4 linked regions of the Homo sapiens genome follow. The protein of the gene in region 1 interacts with the protein of each later gene in a biochemical or structural test. Each region holds a gene or a part of one and is shown in the gene's direction. Other genes may lie near its edges.

Region 1 (3,359 bases):
TTCCCGTTAATTGGGAGTCTGAGCCAGGAGATCCCTCAAGTCCAGGAGCTGGGGGCTGCAGTAAGTTATGATTTTGCCACTGCACTCCAAGCCTGGGGCACAGAGTGAGATCCTGTTTCTTAAAAAAGCCAGTCATGGGTGGCTCATGCTTTTGTAATATGGGGTACTTTGTGAGGCTGAGGCTGGTGGCTTGCTTGAGCCCAGAAGTTCGAGACCAGGGTGGGCAACGTGGCAAAACTCCGTCTCTACCAAAATTAACAAAAACGAGCTGGGTGTGGTGTTGGCGTGCCTGTAGTCTCAGCTGAGGCTAAGGTGGGAAGATTGCTAGAACACAGGAGGTTGAGGCAGCAGGGAGCCAAGACTGTCCACTGCATCCCAGCCTGAGTGACAGAGTGAGGCCTTGTCTCAAAGAGAACCTCTGCCAACTTGAATGAAAAATACCTTAATTTGTATTTTTAAGAAATGACTAGTTAGTAAAACTTGAATCTTTTTTGCCACAGCTCTATTTTAATAATTTTTCTGTTGAGAAAACTAGTAGATTTCTTGAATTCTAAGAGTTCTAACAGGGATTTTATTCATCTTAACTATTTTGACAGATTTAAAAATTATGTAGTAAGACTTTATTTCAATGTTGACAGGACGGGTTCCCATGTGTGTTTTTGCAGAGGGTTATTCCTGAAACTGACTTGTTACTAGGACCACATAGTTTGGTACACAGTAGAAAAAAGGCAGTTAGTTATTGCTGTAGAATGAACTGAGTGACAGTTCTTGCTTGCTTGAGAAAAATATACTGAGCATCTAGATTGGGCCAGGTAGTGTTGCTAGGTGCTCGGGATATATAGTAGAAAAACAAGCCTGTCTTTTTTAATGTATGCAGGAAATCTCTGGAGAAGTAAGAGAGGTTAAGGAAAGCTGGGTATGTGCCTGCTTTACATGGAGTAGTAGTGATTAAGTTGGCCAGTGCCCAGAAGTGCTTACTGGGTGCCAGGATTGTTGCTGTGGAATATCGAGTACCACTAACTTTTAAATTCTTCAAAGAGGGCTGTGCTGAAGTTTGCTGCTGCCACTGGAGCCACTCCAATTGCTGGCCGCTTCACTCCTGGAACCTTCACTAACCAGATCCAGGCAGCCTTCCGGGAGCCACGGCTTCTTGTGGTTACTGACCCCAGGGCTGACCACCAGCCTCTCACGGAGGCATCTTATGTTAACCTACCTACCATTGCGCTGTGTAACACAGATTCTCCTCTGCGCTATGTGGACATTGCCATCCCATGCAACAACAAGGTAATGATTTTAGGATCTAGAGTTTGTGAATGCGTGCTCTAGAAAAAACATTCCTGTGCACATTGTTAGAGCTTGGAGTTGAGGCTACTGACTGGCCGATGAACTCGCAAGTGTAGGTAGTGTGCTACATGAGGGGCAAGTTTTCGCTAACACCACAAGGGTCTCTGGCCCAATGAGTGGAGTTTGATAGTAATTCTTGCTACAAGTATAACATTACTGCATGACAGCTTTGTGGAGAAATGAAAACATTTGGAAAATAGTGTGTTCTTCTGCCTTTGTCCATGTTTCTTGCTCAGGCCTCAGGCACTTGGCCTTTGTTTTCACACCAACTTGATGGGTTCTACTATAAGATGCTAAAAAGGTGGGTTGTGTGTGGTTCAGATTGGTTGATTTGTAACCCTAGTTGTGCATAAGAATTGCCCAGATATTTTTTTTAAATGCCAGTGTCCAGGCATTTTTTTTTCAATCCCTATGATTCCAGTGTGCAGACAAGGTTGAAAATCCCTATTTATAATGCTCCCTGTTACAATTGCTTTTCAACTAAGAGATGTCTGTACTTTTGGTACCTAGATGATGTAAGAGCCAGGAAGGTGCTTGCTGTTTGGGTTTGACCAAGTGTCACTTTTTAATAATCTGCCACTCTTGGCAGGGAGCTCACTCAGTGGGTTTGATGTGGTGGATGCTGGCTCGGGAAGTTCTGCGCATGCGTGGCACCATTTCCCGTGAACACCCATGGGAGGTCATGCCTGATCTGTACTTCTACAGAGATCCTGAAGAGGTAAGCTTCTCCAAAGGCTTGTGGTTACATAAGCAAATTGGACGACTTGGACTGTGCTTCTAGGAAGCAAAACTTGTCAGTCCCTGTAAGTCTTTCCTCTTTTTTTTTTGTAACCCAGATTGAAAAAGAAGAGCAGGCTGCTGCTGAGAAGGCAGTGACCAAGGAGGAATTTCAGGGTGAATGGACTGCTCCCGCTCCTGAGTTCACTGCTACTCAGCCTGAGGTTGCAGACTGGTCTGAAGGTGTACAGGTGCCCTCTGTGCCTATTCAGCAATTCCCTACTGGTATGTATCAGGATAGAGGTGAATCAAGCTGATATTTTGCAACTTCTCAGTTTTATTCTAACTTTAATGATCTCTGTGACTTTTATACTAGCTTTAAGAGGTTTTCATTCCAGTGTGCTACAGCATCTGATAGACTGCTGTTGGGAGTGGGGTAAGGAAAAATACTACATTGAGGACAGAGCTGATGGCTTTTTTTGGTATTCTCTTAACAGAAGACTGGAGCGCTCAGCCTGCCACGGAAGACTGGTCTGCAGCTCCCACTGCTCAGGCCACTGAATGGGTAGGAGCAACCACTGACTGGTCTTAAGCTGTTCTTGCATAGGCTCTTAAGCAGCATGGAAAAATGGTTGATGGAAAATAAACATCAGTTTCTAAAAGTTGTCTTCATTTAGTTTGCTTTTTACTCCAGATCAGAATACCTGGGATTGCATATCAAAGCATAATAATAAATACATGTCTCGACATGAGTTGTACTTCTAAAGCCCACTGTAGATAGTGTATATTGCTTTTCACTTCAGAATTTCCCTGAGCTTCCTTCCTGTGTGGAGAACATGTGTGCTGTGAAAATAGATGTAAGTGGTTACACATACTTAGTTGGTAACCTCAGGAATACTTTTCCGAGGCCCTGATGATCTTGCTTTTATTACCATTTGCGTAGGTAAGTTCTATAGAGCTTAGGTTTTTATTTTTGAGAGTCTTCCTGTCACTTAGGTTAACTATTCCTGGAAGCCCTGGAGAGGCGATGGTCCTTCCCCACATTGAGAGACATTAATTGCCCCTCTTGTCAGCTTGCCTACAGGTTCTGGGAGAGGAGAGGTATGTATGTATTTAAAAATGTGATGTTCTCCATATTTGTCTTTGCCGGGGAGGGGGTTGGGGAGACAGTCTTTCCCTGTTGCCCAGGCTGGAGTACAGTGGCGTGATCTCAGTTCACTGCAACCTCTGCCTCCTGGGTTCAAGCGATTCTTGTGCCTCAGGCTCCTTCGTAGCTGGGATTTCAGGTGTGCACTGCC
Region 2 (7,036 bases), on another chromosome or scaffold:
AAGAAATGGAAACTAGTGCCTTTTCATTCTTCTCTAGTTGCAATGGTCGTGATTTGGTTTTTAGTCCTATAGTCTTCCCAGGTGGTTTTGTTTATATTAACCTTAGGTTTGTGGTGTGACCCCAGCCACTTCATTGAAGGTGGACCCTAAAGTATAGTTGAGTTTGGCTAGTTTATAATACCGTCTCACCCCATGGGGGCTAGAGGGCCTGCCTGAGCCACAAGGAGTTATTGGTTGGTATCCTTAGAAATTGCATACAAATATTTGGCTGCTTTAGTTTCAGAGATAAACAAGAACAGCCTTTAAATTCACTGCCTTCTGTTTGTTAGAGAAGACTTTGAAATCCATTTTACTCAAGATTGATTATTCTGGCTTGAAGGAAATGCTTACCGTGATTTACTAATCTATAATGGCAGGGGTCTGCAGACTCTTGAAAGGGCCAACTAATAAATATGTGTGAGCATTGTGGCTCACATATAGTTTCTGTTGATTTTTTTTCAAAGCAATCATTTAAAAGTGTAAAACCCATTCTTAACTTGCAAGCTAAGGAAAAACAAGCTGTGGTCTGATTTGGTCCATGGGCCGGAGAGTGCTGACCCCTGATTTACAGCTGCCTGTCCACGACGGTAGCCACTGGGCACTTGAGATGTGGCCAGTCTGAATTGAGATGTGCTTTAAATGCAAAAGACACCGGAGTTTGGAGACTTAGTGTCAAAAACAAGGATTATCTCACTGATGACTTTTTATATTGATACAGGTTGAAATGATAGCGTTTTAGATATTTTGAGTTAAATAAAATATATTAAGATAATTTCACCTGATTCTGTTTACTTTCAGTGTAGTGACTAGAACAATGTAATACTATTTATGTAGTTTGCATTATACTTCTATTAGCTAATAGCCTAGAGTTCTGTTTCTCTTGAACTTGGTTGCCTTTGATTTCCATGACTGGATGAACTTGCTAGTTGGTTTTGCCTTTGGTTCCTTTGGCCTTTACCTGACATTTTACTGATTAACAATTAGAGTGAATAAAAGCACCAAATAGTGACTCTCATTTAGTCAACCAGGATAGCGTCGTACAGTTAAGCTCTGCTGTTTATTGATTGTCACAGGTTTTAATGAGGAAAATTTGGTACCGTCTTTTGGAACTTTTTAATTTTTGCATTTCTTTTTAGGTGTTGGATCCCAGAACAAGAATGATTTTATTCAAGATGTTGACTAGAGGAATCATAACAGAGATAAATGGCTGCATTAGCACAGGAAAAGAAGTGAGCTCTTCTTTGGATGATTGGATATTTAATTTTCTTATTTCAGATACCAGATGAAACTGGCACTTAGAACTACATTATGCCTTTAAGAAGAAAGAAAAACAAAGCCATACACATTAATATTCATGGTTAGAGAGGAAGTTGTACATATAACTACGCCCTTTTCACTACCGCTGCTGCATTGGATCATTGAGTCTAACTAGTTGTGCCCAGTAGTGAGTGAGATGGTCAGATTATTACAGGCCTGAGTTCTAATAAAATAAATTACTCATGGGGCCAGGGGTTTATGGTTATGTTTCTATGAGTCAGCAAGTCTTTCTTATTTTTTTCTTTACCTACGGGTATACTGCCTTCTGTTTGTTAGAGAAGACTCTGAAATCCTTTTGACTCAAAATTGACTACTCCAGCTTGAAGGAAACTCTTACTGTGATTTACTCAGCTATAATGGCAGGGGTCTGCAGGCTCTTGAAAGGGCCAGCTAATAAATATATGTGAGTGTTGTGGCTCAATATAGTTTCTGTTTTTGTTTTTTTTTTAAAGCAATTATTTAAAAGTGTAAAACCCATTCTGCTGGAAGCAATTCTCAGTAAAATTCAACTTATAAATCACTGGATTTTTAAATTTTTTTTAAACAGAGTCTTTTTTTTTTTTTTTTTTTGAGACAGTCTCCCAGGCTAGAGTGTGGTGGCATGTTCTCAGCTCACTGCAACCTCTGCCTCTCGGGTACAAGCAATTTTCCTGCCTCACCCTCCCGAATAGCTGGGACTACAGGCGTGCACCACCACACTCAGCTAATTTTTGTATTTGTAGTAGAGGCAGGGTTTTGCCATGTTGACCAGGCTGGTCTCAAATTTTTGGCCTGAAGTGATTCACCCGCCTTGGCCTCCCAAAGTGCTGCTATTACAGGCATGAGCCTCCACGCCTTGCCTAAATCACTGGATTTAAGAATGTCTTTAATTATTTTGCATATACTTGAGATATAAAAAAGTTTGAAACCACTTCTCCCCTATATTTAAATTGGATTTTACTGTACAGTCTTGCATTGCTTAATGAAGGGAATACTTTCTGAGAAATGCATCATTAGGCAAATTTGTCATTATGCGAAGAACATTATAGAGCATACTCATACAAACCTAGATAGTATAGCCTACTGCACTCTCAGGCTATACGGTAGTTCCGAATCTGTACAACAGGTTTCTGTACTGAATACTGTAACAATTGTAAGACAATGGTAAATATTTATCTATCTAAACATAGAAAAAGTACAGTAAAAATACCTGTTATAGTCTTACGGAATCACCTCATATATGCGGTCTGTCACCTGTCAGTAACTAAAACGTTATGTGGCACGTGACTGTATTTGTATATTGGAGCTATGTTTACTGTCCTTTTGATGTAATGTTTTACATTTTAATTCACATATTCAAAAGACAGTGGTATTCCTTATGCATGTTATTTCAGTTCACTTGACTTTTGAGGTTAGAATCAAATAGATTGAAAAAGTGGTTATTTAACATAAACTTCATTTTCTTTTTTTTTTGACTTAATATAGGCTAATGTATACCATGCTAGCACAGCAAATGGAGAGAGCAGAGCAATCAAAATTTATAAAACTTCTATTTTGGTGTTCAAAGATCGGGATAAATATGTAAGTGGAGAATTCAGGTAAGTTCAGATTTTTCCCTCCAGTTGGTTTAATTTCTATTTCCTAAAACATTAAAATAATAATGGAATGATTGAAATAATAAACATTTTTCTTATTCAAGATTTCGTCATGGCTATTGTAAAGGAAACCCTAGGAAAATGGTGAAAACTTGGGCAGAAAAAGAAATGAGGAACTTAATCAGGTGACTGTCTGGGATGTGTGTATGTCTGTCCTATGCCCTGTACATGAACATCAGCCCTTCCTCCCAGCAGATCCCAGTGTGGTTCTGCCCAAATGTAGGGACTTGTTAGGGCCTTTATTTCTATTAGGTCTGCTGAAGTAAGCAGAAGAAACACATGTCTGGACAAATAGAGATTGTTTCCTATTCTGTTGTTTTCTATTCTGAGAATCCATTTCAAAAGAATACTGCCACAATTCATATTTATTCCACGAAGCTAGATCATTTGGAAGGCCTTGTAAGCCATTGAAAATGTTTAGAATTTATACTGAGGATAATAAGGAACTGCTAAAGGATTTTAATCAGGAAAGTGACACAATCAGATGGTTATAATGCTCTGTCATGTTTTCGTAGGTATTGGAGTTTTCGACTAATCTTGTTAGGTCGTGAACTCTTTGTTTATCATAGTTTCCTTTTCTTAGTCCAGTTTTGGACACTTTTTTTATATTCTTTGTTTGCACTAACACCTTTTTATCAGGTAAAGGCCTCATCTAGTTGAGATCAAGTTTCCTGAAAATTATGGAGTTTTAAAAAATGTCTTATAACTTTTTATATGGTGTACACAGGTGACACATTGGATAGTGTAGTATTGAGCAAGTACTACTCGTTTTGAAAGTCTTTTGTGTTCAACAAGCTATTAGGTGTGAGTCCAACTATTTTTATTAAGCATTTTTCAGGCTATTCAACACAAAAGATACTTGTGGACCTATCTCCTCTATTTCCTCCATTGTAAGATGCACATTTTTTTCAGTTTAACATCTCTGGAATTGCTTTGGGTATTACAGGTTATGGGATGTAATAGTTGAATTGCTAGTGTTTTATCATTCTCGGTGGTACATAATGGTGCCACTTAAAATAATCTTAGAGTTTATGAAATATTATAATACATTTGAGAGGCCTTGGTGCTATTTCTTAACAGCAATATTAATCTTGGGACCTGCAGTTGTAATTTATTTAGATGCCTTTTCAACTTTTCAGTTGTCCTTTTATTTGTTATAATATCACAGGCTAAACACAGCAGAGATACCATGTCCAGAACCAATAATGCTAAGAAGTCATGTTCTTGTCATGAGTTTCATCGGTAAAGATGACATGTAAGTACATGGAAGGGCTAATAATTGCATTCTCAGAACTGTATTTTTAAGTTCTTTGAGTTTATCCACTATATGAATATTTCCCATTTGAATAACTTATTAATCTTTCCCACTATATTAGTGAATAAGTGTTATCAATGTATTCTACCTTTTCAAGTCTGAAAATGCTTCAGAATGAGGAGCAAGTTAGTCCTGTGTTGGAGGGTGGTCTTATACAGTGTGTTGGGAAAGCATCTATTTGCCGGTACCTTCTTGGTTTATGTGCATTGAGACAGATTGTCCCACATACAGCTCACATGATGAGTTGTAGAAGAGAAGGGCATGTAACAGTATAGTAAGAAGCAAGAAAACTTGTTCTTGGTCATTTTATCTTAGTTCTTTTCATTCAAGGCCTGCACCACTCTTGAAAAATGTCCAGTTATCAGAATCCAAGGCTCGGGAGTTGTACCTGCAGGTCATTCAGTACATGAGAAGAATGTATCAGGATGCCAGACTTGTCCATGCAGATCTCAGTGAATTTAACATGCTGTGAGTGTATTTTGTCTCTTAAGAACTGCCTGTCAGTTGTTTCGTGTCCTTTAAAATGATAAACAAAATCCCAATCCAAGAAGTCACACTAACTTCTGAAGTTTTATTGTTGACTTCCAAATGGTATAAGATAGGATTCCTTTTTTCAGTGACCTTAGTCACCGAATTGACTGCTTGGATCATTAACAGTGAATGGATTTTGGAAATTTTCCCAGTTCCATCTGTTAGTCAAGATTGCCTCATCTTATCTACCTTGGTGATTTTGTGAGCTACTTCCCTTGCTTTTAAGAGTAGAATTTATTTTAAACGAAAAACATAGTAAAGTAATACCATCCCACAGCTTCTGTGTCTCTGGCCCATAGGTACCACGGTGGAGGCGTGTATATCATTGACGTGTCTCAGTCCGTGGAGCACGACCACCCACATGCCTTGGAGTTCTTGAGAAAGGATTGCGCCAACGTCAATGGTGAGTAGAAACGGCAATTTTCGAAACAGCTCATTGGTCTGTTTTGGTTTTGTACTCAGTTAAGCTGTTGGCGTAAAATTTTCTCACTAAATTGTTTGGTGCAGTGATGCTTAAACCATTTGCTGGGAGATGGTATGTAATTTTATCTCCTTGTTTCTCTATAAGGTAGTTGGAATAATAATATTTTTCCTCATAAAAGCTGTCATTAACGTTTTTCCTTCTGACAGATTTCTTTATGAGGCACAGTGTTGCTGTCATGACTGTGCGGGAGCTCTTTGAATTTGTCACAGATCCATCCATTACACATGAGAACATGGATGCTTATCTCTCAAAGGTAAGATGGGGAGAGGAAGGAGGAATAGGAAATAGCAGTACAGGTGCAGTATCTCTTATCTCAAGTGCTTGGGACCAGAAGTGTTTTGGATTTTGGATTTTTTCCAGTTTTGAAATATCTGCCTTGTACTTACCCTAGTTGAGCATCCGAAATATCAAAATCCAAAATCCTCACTGCTCCATTTCACATTTCATTTGAGCATAATGTTGGTGCTCAAAAAGTTTCGGATTTTGGAGTATTTCAGATTTTTGATTTTTAGATTTGGGATGCTAACCAGTAATTGCATTTGCTTGACACTTCTGAGGGACCCAGATTGCATAGTGTAGTTTATTCATTTTGACAGCTTCCTGAGACCTTTTCCTTCCTACTTAACAGATGAAGAATCAAAAATACAGCACAACAGCCAATGGTAAAGCCAGGGGTTTTTTTTTTTTCCTTTTTTTTTTTTTTTTCTTCTCCTGAGTCAACTTGATATCCAAGCTTTTTACTTCAATTATCTGGCAAGATTACATAGACTGTCAAAGTTTGTGAAAGTTTAGCAAGAAAACTGTCAGTTTTTTGGTCATTAATTCTTTTCCCTTGTTTCTCAGGGGCCTTTCTCTTTTTTTCTTTTCTTTCTTTTTCTTTTTTCTTTTCTTTCTTTCTTTTTTTTTCTTTTTTGAGACAGGATCCCACTCTGTCACGCAGGCTGGAACATAGTGGCGCACTCTTGGTTCACTGCAACCTCTGCCCCTCAGGGTCAAGTGATCCTCCCAGCTCAGTCTCCGAGTAGCTAGGACTACAGGCACACGCCACCACACCTAGCTAATTTTTATATTTTTTGTAGAGACAGGGTTTCATCATGTTGCCCAGGCTAGTCTTGAAATCTTGGCCTCAGGTGACCCACCTGCCTCAGCCTCCCAAAGTGCTGGGATTACAGGTGTGAGCCACGACGCCCGGCCTCAGAGGCCTTTCTGAATATAGAATTTTTTAGAATTCTGGTAAAAGACATAATATAAAATTTAATGCTTTAACCATTTGAATGTATGGTTCAGTGGCATTAAGTACATTCACATTGTGGTACAAACTATCACCACTGTCTATCTCCACACCTGTTACATCATCCCAAACTGATATTCTGTACCCATTAAGTAACAACTTCCCATCCCCTGGCAATCACCATTCTACTTTCTGTCTTTGTGAATTCACCTACTCTAGGTACCTCTTATAAGTGGAATCATATAGTATTTGTCTTTTTGTGTCTGGCTTATTTCACTTAGTATGATGTCTTCAAGATTCATCCATGTTATAGCATGTGACAGGATATCTTTTTCTTTTTTTGTTTGAGACAGGGTCTCACTCTGTCACCAGGCTAGAGTGCAGTGGCGTGATCTTGGCTCACTGCAACCTCTGCCTTCGGGTTCAAGCAATTCTACCACCCTGGCCTCCCTGAGTAGCTGGGACTACAGGTGCGAGCCACTACA
Region 3 (7,109 bases), on another chromosome or scaffold:
TTTTTTATTTTTACTTATTTTTTTTTTTTTGAGACAGAGTCTCGCTCCATCGCCCAGGCTGGAGTGCAGTGGTGCGATCTCGGCTCACTGCAAGCTCCGCCTCCCCGGTTCATGCCATTCTCCTGCCTCAGCCTCCTGAGTAGCTGGGACTACAGGCGCCCGCCACCACGCCCAGCTAATTTTTTGTATTTTTAGTAGAGACAGCGTTTCACCGTGTTAGCCAGGATAGTCTTGATCTCCTGACATTGTGATCTGCCCGCCTCGGCCTCCCAAAGTGCTGGGATTACAGGTGTAAGCCACTGCACCCGGCCAGGCCTGAGCTTTTTATATACACCAACTGCCAAACATTCCACGTGAATTTCCTGAAACTTCTCTTTGGAAAGCTTCTGTTTGTATGTATAAGGCAATGTGCATGCCAGCATGTCAGTTACAGCAGGAGAGAGGGAACAAGCCATGTGGGAACTGATGGAGCCATGTCACATCCAGTGTCCTCTGCAGCCGCTATGGAGTGCCAGGAGGAATGAGGGGCAAATGGTAAGATCTTTATGACGTGAGAGAAGCCAGGTGCGGAGCAGGGAACAGTCAGGTTTAATTGGTGTGAAGAACAGGATCACTGAAAAATATTTTCTCATAGATAAAACTCTTTTTGTATAAAAGTCTACAGAATTGCGATAGGAAACCCATAATCATGGTTTCAAGTGGGCAGAGAACTAGGCTCTGGCGTCAGGGGAGGAAGGGGAACTGTTCACTGTCAACACCTTTTAGGACGTTTCCATTGGGATCGAAGGGTGGCTCACTCTGCCACTTTGACATAAGAATCACTTCTACCTAAGGCACTTGAAAAATGGCACAGGCAAGAGCATCATCGGATCTCTCCTTTTCTTCCTGAAGACAGGAGATAAAAACGCTCAGGTGAAAGATGCCTTCCCTGTACCGGGCGAAGAAAGATTCCTCTACAGGGAAGCACGTCATAGCCAACAGAATTCTGTACAGACATTAAAGTAATTAAAGTAATTCCTGTCGTTCTTAAGCCTCCCCACACGGTTTACTTTTCCACAACTGCCTCTTTGTTCAGCCTCCTGCAAAAGCACATAGGTTTCGTCACTTCTTTGGGTCTTTGCTTCCTTAGGAGGGTCCTGTGTGACATCAAAGTGACATTAAATTTGTATACATTTCTCCTGTTAATCCATCTGATTTCAACTTAGTTCCCAGGCCCAGCCAGGAACCTAAGAGGAGGGAGGTGGATATTTGCCTCCCCTACAGTATCGTGTACGTATATGACTTTTTAAAAAAGAAAATCTGGGGCCACATGGCAGTGGCTCACGCCTGTCATCTCAGCATTTTGGGAGGCTGAAGTGGGACGACTGCTTGAGCCGAGTTCAAGATCAGCCTGGGCAACATAGGGAGATTGTGTCTCTGCAAAAAAAAAAACCCAAAAAATTAGCCAGGTGTGGTGGCACATGCCTGTGTTCCCAGCTATTCAGGAGGCTAAGATGGGAGGATCACTTGAGCCCAGGAGGTCACCATTACAATGAGCTATGATTGCACCACTGTTCCAACTTGGGCAACAGAGTGAGACCCTGTCTCTTAATTTTTTTTTAATTAATTAGTTACCTGATTAACACAGTTCCTTATTGGTGAGGGATTCTCTACTGTGGTCCTTCTGCAGTCCCACCCCATACATGAATGGCTTCTTTTGAAGCTTCCTCCTTTGTACAGGTGAGTATCTTTGTCACTGTCTTACTCTGTTTTGTGCTGCTATAACAGAATACCACAGACTAGGTAATTTATATAATGAACTGAAATTTACTGGCTCATGGTTCTGGAGACTGGGAAGTCCAAGACAGAAGAGCTAGCAACTGGCAAGGGCCTTCTTGCTGTGTCATCCCATGGTGGAACAGCAAAGAGAGGGCAAGAGTGTGCCAAAAGGGGGGCAAACTAGTCCTTTTATGAAAAATACTTTGATAACAAACCCACTCCCATGATAACAACATTAACCCTTTCCTGACGGTAGAGTCCTTGTGGCCTAATCACCTCTTAAAGGTGCCACATCTTAATACTAGTATGATGGCAATTACATTTCAACATGGGTTTCAGAGGGGACCAACATTCAAACCATAGCAGTCTCAAACACTGGGCTGGCAGTGGAAGAGGAGGCTGATCTTTAAAGAATATAAATTTTTTTTTTTTGAGACGGAGTTTTGCTCTTGTTGCCTAGGCCAGAGTGCAACGGTGTGATCTTGGGTCATTGCAACCTCTGCCTCCCCGGTTCAAGCGATTCTCCTGCCTCAGCCTCCTGAGTAGCTGGGATTACAGGCATGCGCCACCACGCCTGGCTAATTTTGTATTTTTAGTGGAGATGGGGTTTCTCCACGTTGGTCAGGCTGGTCTCAGACTCCTGACCTCAGGTGATCCGCCTGCCTCAGCCTCCCAAAGTGCTGGGATTACAGGCGTGGGCCACCACGCCCAGCCAGAATATGTTCTTTAAAAACAGGCACAATTCCATGAAGTAAACTCACATTGGAATGGTTAACAGGTAAAGTGATCCAGCTGGCTGAAACAATAGGCATTCACCGGCATCCAAAGTACATAAAGATGAGCACTTTGAGACTGCGCCACTGCACTCCAGCCTGGGCGACAGAGTGAGACTCTCTCACCAAAAAAAAAACGTGAGCACTTTCACCTCAAGAGTCGCTAGGCTCAGATGCTGAATGCACCCTGAAGGAACTCTAAAGATACCAGCCTCTGGAGTTTTCACAGCCAACAGCATTCCTAGGTAGACTGGTTGAGAACACGGCTAGTTGGAGGGTAAAAAGAATGACTTGTGAATGCTCACTAGGTCTTTGAATATGTAAGTAGACACGACTTCAAGCCAGTTGCTCAGCCTTGAATATATCCTAGAGTCCATCACCTTGGGCTGTGAGTGGCTTGTGCGGTCATCTGTCCATCTCTCAGCTGGGCGAGAAACTTGATGTCCTTTCTGAGAGGTGGCCCTGGCTCTGCCTGGGACCTGCTACTCTTCTCCAAAGTGCATTTTTTGTGGGTGGGTTTTCACTGTGGGTCCTGGGCAGGTGAGTGCTGGTGCCCAGTGTTGGGGAGCAGGGTAGATAGAGGTGTGGCTGCTACCTGGCTGGGCCCGGACTTGGCAGCCTTCCTTCATGGCCCTCAGCCACAGCCTGTTCCATAGTTTGTTCTCGATGTGTCAGCTTTGTGTTCCCATGAGAACAATGGGCTCCTTGAGGACAGGCATTGCATCGTACCTGTGGTCTCTTCCCTAACGCCCCCCAGTACGCCCAGCATAGACAGCACAGGGTGCAAGCAGTCAGATGAGCAGGGCTCCCGTTCCCAGCACGGGACCCAGCCCGTTACCTCGCTGCTATGTTTCCCACGTAAACGGAGCAATACCCAATTCTAAAGAACTGTTCTGAGGACTAAATGGAATAGTGTAAAAAATAAATTGACATGAAGTGAAGGTCAATTAAAATGCACTAGCTTGGCCAGGCGCAGTGTGGCTCATGCCTGTAATCCCAGCGCTTTGGGAGGCCGAGGAGGGAGGATCGCTGGAGCCCAGGAGTTTAAGACCAGCCAGACAACACAGCAAGATCCCGGCTCTAGCAAAACATTAATAAAAATTAGCCGGGCGTGGCGGTGCCCACCGGTGGTCCCACCTTCTCGAGAGGCTGAGGCGGGAGGATCGCTCGAGTCCTGGACGTCGAGGCTGCAATGAGCCGATTTCGCGCCATTGCGCTCCAGCCTGGGCGACAGCGCGAGACTCCTTCTCAAATATAGAATTTTAAAAAGGCCATCTCGACTGCCGCGGGGGTCGCGTCCTCTCCATCCCCGACCTTGGACGCAACCCCGGGCTTGGGTCCCCCACGATCTAGACAGAAACTCGTTGTTTCTCGTGCTCCGCGCCACCCGCGTCCTCCGGTCTGTTTCTCCCAGGTGCGTCGGTGAAAGGCGGAGCGCCGCCACCCTACACCCGCGACCCTGCGCCCGCCCGAGCCGCTTCCGGGTACTTCCGGCGGCCGCGGGGCTCCCGGCAGCCGCGGCTCCTGTTTCCGCCGGGCGGCGAGAACGCAGGACCAGCTTCCGGGAGGCGCTCCGCACGTTTGCCGTGCTCCGCCGGGAAGATGGGGAAAGTGAGGGGGTTGCGCGCCCGAGTGCACCAGGCTGCCGTGAGGCCGAAAGGGGAGGCCGCCCCCGGCCCCGCGCCCCCTGCCCCGGAGGCGACCCCTCCGCCGGCCTCGGCCGCGGGGAAGGTGAGCTGGGGAGGCGCTGGCCGGGGGCTGCCGCGTGGGTCCGAGGGCGGGTGAGCTGCGGGGCGCCGCCTCCGGGAGGGTTCCGCGACCCCGGCCTTCCCTCGGGCTCTGCGGGCATTTGCTGCGCTACAGACGCGACCTTCTTGCTTCGCGAAGCGTCGTAAACTCCGAGGCTCCGCTCTGCGCTGCCGTCCTGGGCACACGGACTCGCGCCGCTCCCGGGGAGGGGAGAGAGCCAGGAACCTCCCGCTGCGGTCCAGGGTTGCCACGCGGACCCCAGAGGTTCCTGAATCGCACTGAGCTCCCCGGAAAGGAAAGGACGTTCCCAGAGTTAGAGAAGAACGGAGAGCAAACTGAAGAGAGACCCCGTTCCCTTTAGCAGTCGGCTGGCCTGTTTCTCCATCCCCCTCAGCCCTAAGCAAGCACGAATCTACCTTTTGTCTTTATTCTAGACACTGCATGTGAGTGGAATTATTGCTTTCAGGATTTTTTTTTTTTTTTGGCTTTTGCCTTAAATATTTTGACCGATGTGTCTTGGTGTAGGTATCTGCATTTATTTTGCGTGTTCACTGAGCTTCTTGCGTGTGTAGGTTAATGTTTTTCGTTACATTGGCAAGTCTTCAGCCATTATTTCCTTGAATATTTTTTTCTGCCCCTTTCTGTCACTCCTCTCTTTCGGATACTTCCATTATAAATATGTACGTCGTGCTTAATGGTGTCCCACAGTGCTCTGAGGCGCTGTTCACTCAGTTTTTCTCTTTTCTTCAGATGGCATAATCTATCTTAATTCAAGTTTACTGATGTTCTGCCAGCCCAGAGGTGCTTTTGAACCTTTCCAGTGAAATTTTCATTTTTTTTGACTCCAGAATTTATTTACTTTCTTTCTCTTCTCCTGTTCCTCCTCATTTTAAAAAATACTCTTTACTGATGTTTTCTGTTTGATGTGAGAATGTCATTATACCTTCGTTTAGTTCTTTAGACACGGTCTCTTTTAGTCCTTAGAAATATTTATAATGCCTACTCTGAATTCTTTACATGTGGGCTGCTCAAAGCAGTTTCTGTTGCCTGGCTCATGCTGGCAGGTAGGAGCAGGTGGGCCTTCTTTGAATGTATCACTTTTTGTGGAAAATTGGGCATTTTGGATAGTCCTGTAGCAACCAGGGATTAGTATCTGCTTGATTACTTTGTTTATTGATCTGGAACTGAACTATGTGACCTCTCTCCTTGTCCCCTTCTGGCTGTGTGCAGCCTCTGATGTGCCCCCTTGGTTTTTTTTTTTTCTTCCTGTTTTTCTCTTTTAGCCTGGCTAGTTGGATCTGCTTAAGCTCCTCACTGGTCAGCAATTGTTCTTAAAGCCTCCTTGGCCAGGGGGTTTTTGCCTTTTACCACTGGATACCTCTGGCTTGGAGGTGGCTGTCAGATTCAGCGTGTTCACATTTTTGACCTTCATTTCTGCCCTCAGAGGCACAGCCAAGGACTAGTAGCTTACAGAGTCCCTCTGCTCACTCCTGGTAGGGTGCGTCCTTGAACATGCGCACAGCCTCCAGACTGCCAGGGATGCGACCTCCTGGGAGTTGTTCCTGGGTCAGAGGGGCTTACTGTCTACCCAGGAGCCTTGGGCACCCTGCCCTCTGCATCTGTCACCACCCAGAGCTCCTTCCTGGTCAGCAACACCCTTAGGCGTGAGAGCCCTCACACGAGCTGCAGACAAGGCGAGTCCCTTCTGGCAGAGCTATGGAGTTCTTCCTTTTTGCAGCCTACCGCTCCTGGGCAAGAGCTCCGTGTCAGGACACCAGAGATGGGGCAGGAGCAGCTTCAGCTTCTCAGGTGACATCTCTCTCTACTAGCAGGAGAGGGGCGTGCCTTTAGTTGTCTTGGCTCATTGAAACCTGTGCCAGCATTTTTTTATTAAGCTCCAAAAATATGCATTAATGAGATATAAAGTGCTACCATGGAGAATGTCCCAGGTACAGTGGGAAAAGCAGTCGTCTGCCGTATACCAACATACATTCATGATCTGGAAGGCTGCATGCTGCACCCCTTGTCCCCACCTGGTCCCTGTTTGCCTGTGAGGCCTCAGCCTACCTGTGCTGCCTCAGCCACCTGCCTGCCCATCTGAAGGCTGCCCTGGTCTCCAGCACTGTTCCCCCGTGAGTCTGATATTTTCCCATGTACCGACTTTTCTGTCTCTGCCACGTAACCCTCCAAGACCAAGGACTTCTCCCTCAGGTGCTGTGGGTGAGGGAGACCAAGGACTTCTCCCTCAGGTGCTGTGGGTGAGAGCACCTGGGGAGTTGCAGTCCAGCCTGGCACCTCTTGGTGCCCTGGCTGCCTTCTACCTCATCTGCATCCTGTCTCCTCTGTAATGTGAAGGAGGCCATGTTTTACCTCTACCTTCAAGGTTTTTAGGTTGGGCCTGAGATTTAGAATTACATAAAACAGATTAACAGGAGAAAAGCGTACCCATTCATTGAAGTTTTATGTGACATGGGAGCCTTATAAGGAAATGAAGACAAGGAAGTGGGAGAACTTTGTGCTTCTTTGAGAGGGTGAGAGGTTGAACGGAGGTGGTTGTGGAAAACTAAACCACATGGGGAGGCTGCAGGAGGGGAGGGGTTGTGTTCACCAGGTGTGTCTGTACAGAGTGCTCTTGGCTCCTCTGATCCATCCCTGATGATAAGAATGTCACTTACCTTCTGGTGTAGGAGGGCATCTTCCATATGGGGGTTTTATCTCCTTTCAGGAAAAACAGGGAGGGGGTTAATATGCCCTCTTGGTACCTGCTATATTTTTAAGTGCCTTTAGCTCAAAATAATTAGTGACATGTTTTGGGGTGGCGTATTCTGA
Region 4 (7,036 bases), on another chromosome or scaffold:
GAAGCGGTGAGCCTAGCACAGAAAGCTGGGAGGGAAGAGGACTGACTTCCTGGCAGCCGGGGCTCCGGTTCCTGATTCCTGCCCTGGTATCCTGTCCCAAGAATGGCCTCCGCCCAGACTGCCTGGTGATCCCTGAGCAGCTCTCTGCACTGCTCCAGAAATCAGGAGGATTTTTCAGAGCCCAGAGAGCAGATTTCTCCACGAGCCCTAAGGAAATCTGAATCTCTGGTGAGGAAAGTGACATGGAGGATGAAGGAAACAAGCTCTGCCAAGCCCCACCATGGCCAGGCCAGACCAGCCCAGGTACAACTGTTGATCAGTGAGAATTGAGAGCAGTTCCCCTAAACAACACTCCCTTTGCTTCTTCTGCCATACTAAGGCCTAGGCAAATGGATCTCTCCAAGAAGGGAGGCAACTGGGCTGCCTTTCCTTGTACCGTCAGGGGGCCTTATTCCTATCCTTTCTGTCCCTTCTTACTCACCATTCCCTACACTCCTCCCATCTAGTGGTGTCATCCTAACGACTGGGGGTGGGGGGCACCCAGAACTGAGGTTGCTATAGTAACAGATGAGATGAGGCTACAGCCTTCTATAGTTGTGGACTGTATGCTCTCCTCCCCCTCGCCCCCCATGCCTCATTTGCAGCCTTAGTCTCTTTCTGTCTCCCAACTCCAGCTCTCTTTCTCCATTCTGTAGGCTCCCCTCACCCCTCTGGATGTGAGCCTGTGGTTATATGCCTTCTTACACATGCTCTTGGCTGGTTTAGACACATACAAACACACACATGACAGATACTCACAGCCAGTGCACCCACAGCCATATATCCAGTGCTGGCACATACACCTCCATTACCAGAACATCCAAACACACCCACAGATACCCAGCCACTGCCTCCTCCAGAGCTGTGCCCACAACCCGGGGATTAGCATCCATAAGATCCGAGCACACACACATTTCTCCTCTGCCACTTTAACATTCCTACCCCCATCTCTCTTAGGGGCCTCCTTGTATCTTTCACTCTCTTAGAAAGCTCCTACCCACTGCCCCCAAGTCTTTGTGGGTGAGTGTGTTACACACATTAATCTCTTCCCGCCTACCTCCTCTGTAGATCTGTTTTAGATTCAAAGCCCTAAATCTGAACTCCTCCCGACACACACACACACACACACACACAGACACACACACAGATGCACTCTTTCCTCCCGCAGGATCTGTAATATTTACAAACTCTCCTTCCATATGAAAGCAGGGAAGTATAACCCCCAATCCTGCCCCCTTTTCCAGCTGAGGGCTTGGCCCCAGAGTTTCCTCCACTGGGGCAGGGTCTTCTTGTCTCCTGCTGCGCTTTCCCTTCCAGTTGTACTCATGCCCCCCTACTCATTCTTATCTCCATCTCTAGTCCCCTCCCCATCATCCCCCTCACCCGTACCCCCCTCCTTCTGTCCTTGGATTATCAGTGAAGTGAGGGGGGTTGGGCTCCAGAGCTTGCTGCTGTGACCTAGATTTCAAGGCAGAGACAGTTCCTGGTGCTGACAGTCAGAGAGCATTGTTCCTGGCCCGGCCTGGCAGGGCCACTGCTGGGCCCTTCTGTCTGGTTGCACCTGGGTGTGCAACTGAGCATGCCTATGACTGCCTGTTTCTTGCGGGGGTCATGGTAGCCCTCCTGTCTGGCTCATTGTCTGCCTGTGTCATGGTGCCTGCCACCAAGGGAGGCTTGTTTATTCTGGTCCAGGTAGGGGGCTGGGAATGGGGACTTCTGGGTCTGTATCTCTTATTTTGTGACCACCATGCCAATCTCAGTTCCCCTGCAGTAGAGCAAGAAGGAAAATGTGAATGTGTCAACCAAGCCCCTTTGATCTGCCACATTCCCAGCCTAATGCTGGGGTGATTTGCAGGCAGCCTCCGTCAGGGACAAGGTCATCTTGCTGCTTGCCCACCCCTTGGTCTAGTCGCATACAGAGTGTTTATGATACAATTTACTTTTTAAAACATGCTTTACTTTTCTGACTAAAAGGAAATAGATACTCATTGTGGAAATAAGTTCCATTTTTGAGCTTACCACTAGTGTCACATTTTATCAAATCCAGAAAGTCCATTCAAACATCTGACCTTCTTTCTTCTGTCTTAGCCACAGTTCCTATCTTAGTGGAAGGAAGGCCTTGAATGTTCTCTACTTCTCACCTAAGGATCATGAAAGAGGGATAGGGTGAAAGCCTAGGTGAGATCTGGCCTTGCTGATCTCATCAGACCATGCTGAAGGTAGTGCCAGTAGGATGTTGATACGATACGAGAAGGGGGGGCAGTCCCCTTTTGCCATTCTCCCAAAGCCGCATCTAAAGTCCCCTCCCCCCACCACCCAGCCAGCCTGGGAACTGGGCAGGGGGCCAGAGCCAGTTGCTTGGTATTCTTGGGCACGGGGGCTGCAGGCACAGCACAAAGGGTAGGAGAGAGAGCTGAGTGGGGGCCTGGTAACCATCAAAGGAGAAAATGGGCTCCACAAAGGTGGGGGTGGTCCATTGCTTCCCCCACCTCGAACCCTAATGACTGAATACAAGGCTAGCATGGTGGGGCCAAGGAACCATCAGACCAAGCAACTAGGCATCTATCCAAAATGAGTCATTAGTGGGGTGGTGGGGAGTTGAAGTGAGGGACCCCTTTGCCTTTGAGGCAGAATGGGGAAGCTAGAACACATGAGTTCCTACCAGACCCTCCAGCTCTTTCTCAGCTTCTCACTGCCACAGCAAGCCTCGCCCTGGTTGTTTTGGAGTTTTTTTTCCCTGACATGGGGAGGGGTTGGAAGTGGGTGGGGCGATTCTGAGGGGGGACTTGGAGAGAGCGGGTGAGAAAGTCGGGAGCAGGTTGCTATGGTAACCGCCTCCTCAGTCAGGGGAACTGTTGCCAGGGTTACTGTTAGAGGGGGAAAACAGAAGAAAAAGATGGTGGGGGGAAGGAGGTATGACTTGTCACTCTAGGCTCCAGCCTGGCTCCTAGCTTCCCGTCTACCCTGACTGCCTCCCCTAGGTCTTCCTTTTCTCCCTCCAGCCCTAGCCACCTCCAGCCTCCATGTTCCAGGCACATGCCTGGTAGGGCAGAGTGGGGAGTAGGAGGGTAGTGCCAGTGAGTAAACCAGACTCCATACCTTAAGCTCAACTCCTATCCCTTTGTCGCCTCCCAACCCCAGTCATGGCTGAGTACGGGACCCTCCTGCAAGACCTGACCAACAACATCACCCTTGAAGATCTAGAACAGCTCAAGTCGGCCTGCAAGGAAGACATCCCCAGCGAAAAGAGTGAGGAGATCACTACTGGCAGTGCCTGGTTTAGCTTCCTGGAGAGCCACAACAAGCTGGACAAAGGTGGGGGAGGGGAGCACAGGGGTCCTGTCATCAGTCATTCAGGCTCAGTTCATTCAGCAAATAGAGATGAGCTCAAAGCTTTTACATCCACAATGTGTACCCCTCTATAGCAAGGCAGAAGAGAGGTGCTCTAAGAGTATGGGGGCCTTAGACATTTTTCACTGTGCCCCTCATCGGTAAAAAATGTTATTCAGATACTCCTGTGCTATTATCACATATACAACAGAACATAAAAACAATCTAAAAATAGTAAAATTTTAAGTGGCAAAAATTGGGAAGAATTCTAGACAATAAAAATGGAAGAATACCTGAATGAGGGGAGAACTCGAAGTGTAATCTAACTGGTAAATAGTAATACTAATCTTTGTTAAGCATTTTTTAAAAACTGGTAAAATTTAAAACTACAAGTTCTATCATTTTCTTATCCACTTTGAGAGACTACTGCTTGGGGAGTGGGATCTATGGATTAGAGTAATCCCTCACAGCTGGAGGCTTTAGGGAAGAATTGGTGTTTAAGATGGCCCTGAAAGGTGAGTGGGATTTCTAAGGCAAGATCCAAAGGAGGGCATGCCAGGCAGAGGAACACTGTCACAGAGTATCTAGTGTGTTTGGAAATGCAATCAGTCCTGCTTGGCTTGACTAGGATGTAGGGTGTTTAGAAATGGCTGGGAAGGTAAGGTAAGACTGTGTTGTAGAGAGCCTGGGTATTGGATAGGTGAGGTGAGTGAACTCAGGGCCCTTCAGATATACTATTCTGACTGCTGTGTGGCTGGCAGGGAGAACGTATAAAGGAGGACGTGTTACAGTTAGACTGTATGGCAACAGTCAGAGGGGAGGAGCCAGGGAAGAAGGTCTAAGGGCATCTATAATCTCCTGGAATTGGCCAAGCCATGGACATCGTCCTTCTGGTGGTGTCCATACCTTCTCTCATTTAGAATAACCTTTCTCACCAGGCCCAGAATCTCTCCTGGGTTGCCTAGAGATTCCACCCTGCTGGTCCTACATGTGCTGTCAGCAAATTCTGATACTTACTTGGATGGAAAGTGGAAAAGGATGGGGGTGGGGGTGGGGTATCTGGAAGTCAAGTTGATTTTTCTTTTGTCCCCTCCCCACAACATATGGGAGCTAGTATCTAAGCTAAACCCCTCATTCTAACCACAATCTAGAAACTTCACTGACCAACTATCTGCCCTTCCTGCGAACAGTCCTCTGTATTGTTGTTTGGGTACCTTAGCTTTCTTCTCCTGGATTAGTAGCCCCTCTTCCTCCAGTGTTGTACCCTCCCATAACCAATGTCAGCAACTCAGCTTTGGTTCCAGGTCACTAGTCTGGTGGAGTAGGGGAAGCTGACCTCTACAGCCTAGCTCTGACCCTATCTCCTGCCTTCCTCCAGACAACCTCTCCTACATTGAGCACATCTTTGAGATCTCCCGCCGTCCTGACCTACTCACTATGGTGGTTGACTACAGAACCCGTGTGCTGAAGATCTCTGAGGAGGATGAGCTGGACACCAAGCTAACCCGTATCCCCAGTGCCAAGAAGTACAAAGGTAAGCGGCCACTCCTTTAACTAGCTGCACCTCTGCCTCGTCCCGTTGACTATCCTTGGAGTACTTGAGTTTTGGGAGAGTGGAGGCAGATGCCCAATGGGCCTGCCTGGCATCTCCCACACTGCTGTCCCTGGACACATACCTTTTTGCCCCCAGACATTATCCGGCAGCCCTCTGAGGAAGAGATCATCAAATTGGCTCCCCCACCGAAGAAGGCCTGAGCAAGGGGGAGGAAGAGGAGGAAGGTTGGACCTTCATCAGACCACTCCCTTCCCCCATCCTCCAGGAGAGGGGGCAAGGGCAACCCACCATCTACCCACTTACTAACCTGGTCCTAACCCCCTTACTGTGCGCGTGTGTGTGCGTGTGCGCACGCTCTGGCTGTTTGTCTATATGTCTAGCTCATCTAGTTCCTCTTCTTAAGGGGATGGGGGTCAGGGGCTAGGGGAGGGGGCTGAGTTTCCCCACTTTAGGAGGAGGTGGGGGCTATTTCTATGCAAATAGAAATCAGCACATTCCTCCTACTTCCCTTTCCTCCACTCCCCCCATATCTTTAAAGTGTGGAAGCAGAAAGGACCTGCATTTTCCTACATTGAGGAGCTGACATAGGGGTAAGGTATGGGAGAGGTAGGTGGATCCAGGGAAAAGCAGTGGGGACGGAAGGCAAAGAGACCACTCAACCCCCACCTGGAAGGGGCAAAGAAAAGCCAGAGTTCCATGTTTGTACTCCTGTGCTGGACTGTTTCCTGAGTACCAGCAGGTCCCTTTTTGTCTCTCATGGGCCTAGCATAGGTATGAGCCAGGGATCCTTTCCTGGTCCCTAAGATCAAACCCCATGGAGCAGCCAGCGTTAGATGCCCCCACCCACCTGTACTCTGGAGAGACTGTGCTGGGAACATGTACCACTGAGCCTGAGATGGGGATGAGGGCAGAGAGAGGGGAGCCCCCTCTTCCACTCAGTTGTTCCTACTCAGACTGTTGCACTCTAAACCTAGGGAGGTTGAAGAATGAGACCCTTAGGTTTTAACACGAATCCTGACACCACCATCTATAGGGTCCCAACTTGGTTATTGTAGGCAACCTTCCCTCTCTCCTTGGTGAAGAACATCCCAAGCCAGAAAGAAGTTAACTACAGTGTTTTCCTTTGCACCGATCCCCACCCCAATTCAATCCCGGAAGGGACTTACTTAGGAAACCCTTCTTTACTAGATATCCTGGCCCCCTGGGCTTGTGAACACCTCCTAGCCACATCACTACAGTACAGTGAGTGACCCCAGCCTCCTGCCTACCCCAAGATGCCCCTCCCCACCCTGACCGTGCTAACTGTGTGTACATATATATTCTACATATATGTATATTAAAACTGCACTGCCATGTCTGCCCTTTTTTGTGGTGTCTAGCATTAACTTATTGTCTAGGCCAGAGCGGGGGTGGGAGGGGAATGCCACAGTGAAGGGAGTGGCAGAATCAAATTGCTACATAGTCCAAACAAAAAAGAAGGCTTTTTCAAAAAACATTAAATTCACATGCAGTCTCAGAGACTATTTAGACAAAGTTCAAGTTAGGAGCTTTTAGGATGTGGGAGTAAAACTTTAATGGGAGGGGAGGGCTGGCTGCTGGAAGAAGGAAGAAGCCAGACTGGTTAGACAGTACTCTTAACTCCTAGCCCAGCCTAGCGTGCCCTGCCCCTCTGGCCACTGCTGCAGACACCTGCCTTAACACACACACCTCTAGGACTCCACAGTTTTGCCTTAAAGGACCTTCCCAAGTCTCCCTTTCCCTGTCTGGCTTCTCCCTTAAGAAGAGAGAGATACTTGTAGAATTGGGTGGGGGGAATGAGCATGAACTGTCCTTCCATTTGGGATATGTTACATTAGAGTGAGAGAGAGAATAAGGAGCCTTTCTTATGGAAGAAATGGGAGAAGAGAGACAGGGTTCTTTTCAGCAGAGTCTAGTAGTTTCTCTGTAAGGCAAAATAATCTAAAAAGACTAACCTGCCCACCCACTCCTTATATTGCTGTGAGATTGCCCCTATCTTGTGCTCTTCTGTCTGCAGTGTGCACGGCCTTGTTCTAACCCGGAATAAAGGTGATTGATTGTATTGCAACTAACTGATTTTAAAATTTCTGTGAG

Evidence for each region.
Region 2: the proteins of RPSA (region 1) and RIOK1 are reported together in a solved structure, tested with the Homo sapiens proteins (one study listed by BioGRID).
Region 3: the proteins of RPSA (region 1) and SLX9 are reported together in a solved structure, tested with the Homo sapiens proteins (one study listed by BioGRID).
Region 4: the proteins of RPSA (region 1) and PEA15 form a complex in vitro, tested with the Homo sapiens proteins (one study listed by BioGRID).

Annotation. Positions count from the first base shown.
Region 1 is NC_000003.12:39,409,716-39,413,074, forward strand, and holds the end of RPSA (small ribosomal subunit protein uS2), read left to right. Parts: intron 1-1,038; coding exon 1,039-1,284; intron 1,285-1,338; exon of another isoform or gene 1,339-1,492; intron 1,493-1,933; coding exon 1,934-2,062; intron 2,063-2,180; coding exon 2,181-2,346; intron 2,347-2,558; coding exon 2,559-2,653; 3' UTR 2,654-2,827; downstream 2,828-3,359.
Region 2 is NC_000006.12:7,399,783-7,406,818, forward strand, and holds part of RIOK1 (serine/threonine-protein kinase RIO1), read left to right. Parts: intron 1-1,175; coding exon 1,176-1,268; intron 1,269-2,820; coding exon 2,821-2,933; intron 2,934-3,034; coding exon 3,035-3,115; intron 3,116-4,158; coding exon 4,159-4,245; intron 4,246-4,635; coding exon 4,636-4,773; intron 4,774-5,135; coding exon 5,136-5,239; intron 5,240-5,466; coding exon 5,467-5,573; intron 5,574-7,036. UniProt on the Homo sapiens protein: Involved in the final steps of cytoplasmic maturation of the 40S ribosomal subunit. Involved in processing of 18S-E pre-rRNA to the mature 18S rRNA. Required for the recycling of NOB1 and PNO1 from the late 40S precursor.
Region 3 is NC_000021.9:44,935,925-44,943,033, forward strand, and holds the start of SLX9 (ribosome biogenesis protein SLX9 homolog), read left to right. Parts: upstream 1-4,104; 5' UTR 4,105-4,133; coding exon 4,134-4,262; intron 4,263-4,377; exon of another isoform or gene 4,378-4,723; intron 4,724-7,109. UniProt on the Homo sapiens protein: May be involved in ribosome biogenesis.
Region 4 is NC_000001.11:160,208,363-160,215,398, forward strand, and holds the end of PEA15 (astrocytic phosphoprotein PEA-15), read left to right. Parts: exon of another isoform or gene 1-242; coding exon of another isoform or gene 243-303; intron 304-481; exon of another isoform or gene 482-507; intron 508-3,180; coding exon of another isoform or gene 3,181-3,182; coding exon 3,183-3,354; intron 3,355-4,747; coding exon 4,748-4,903; intron 4,904-5,059; coding exon 5,060-5,124; 3' UTR 5,125-7,010; downstream 7,011-7,036. UniProt on the Homo sapiens protein: Blocks Ras-mediated inhibition of integrin activation and modulates the ERK MAP kinase cascade. Inhibits RPS6KA3 activities by retaining it in the cytoplasm. Inhibits both TNFRSF6- and TNFRSF1A-mediated CASP8 activity and apoptosis.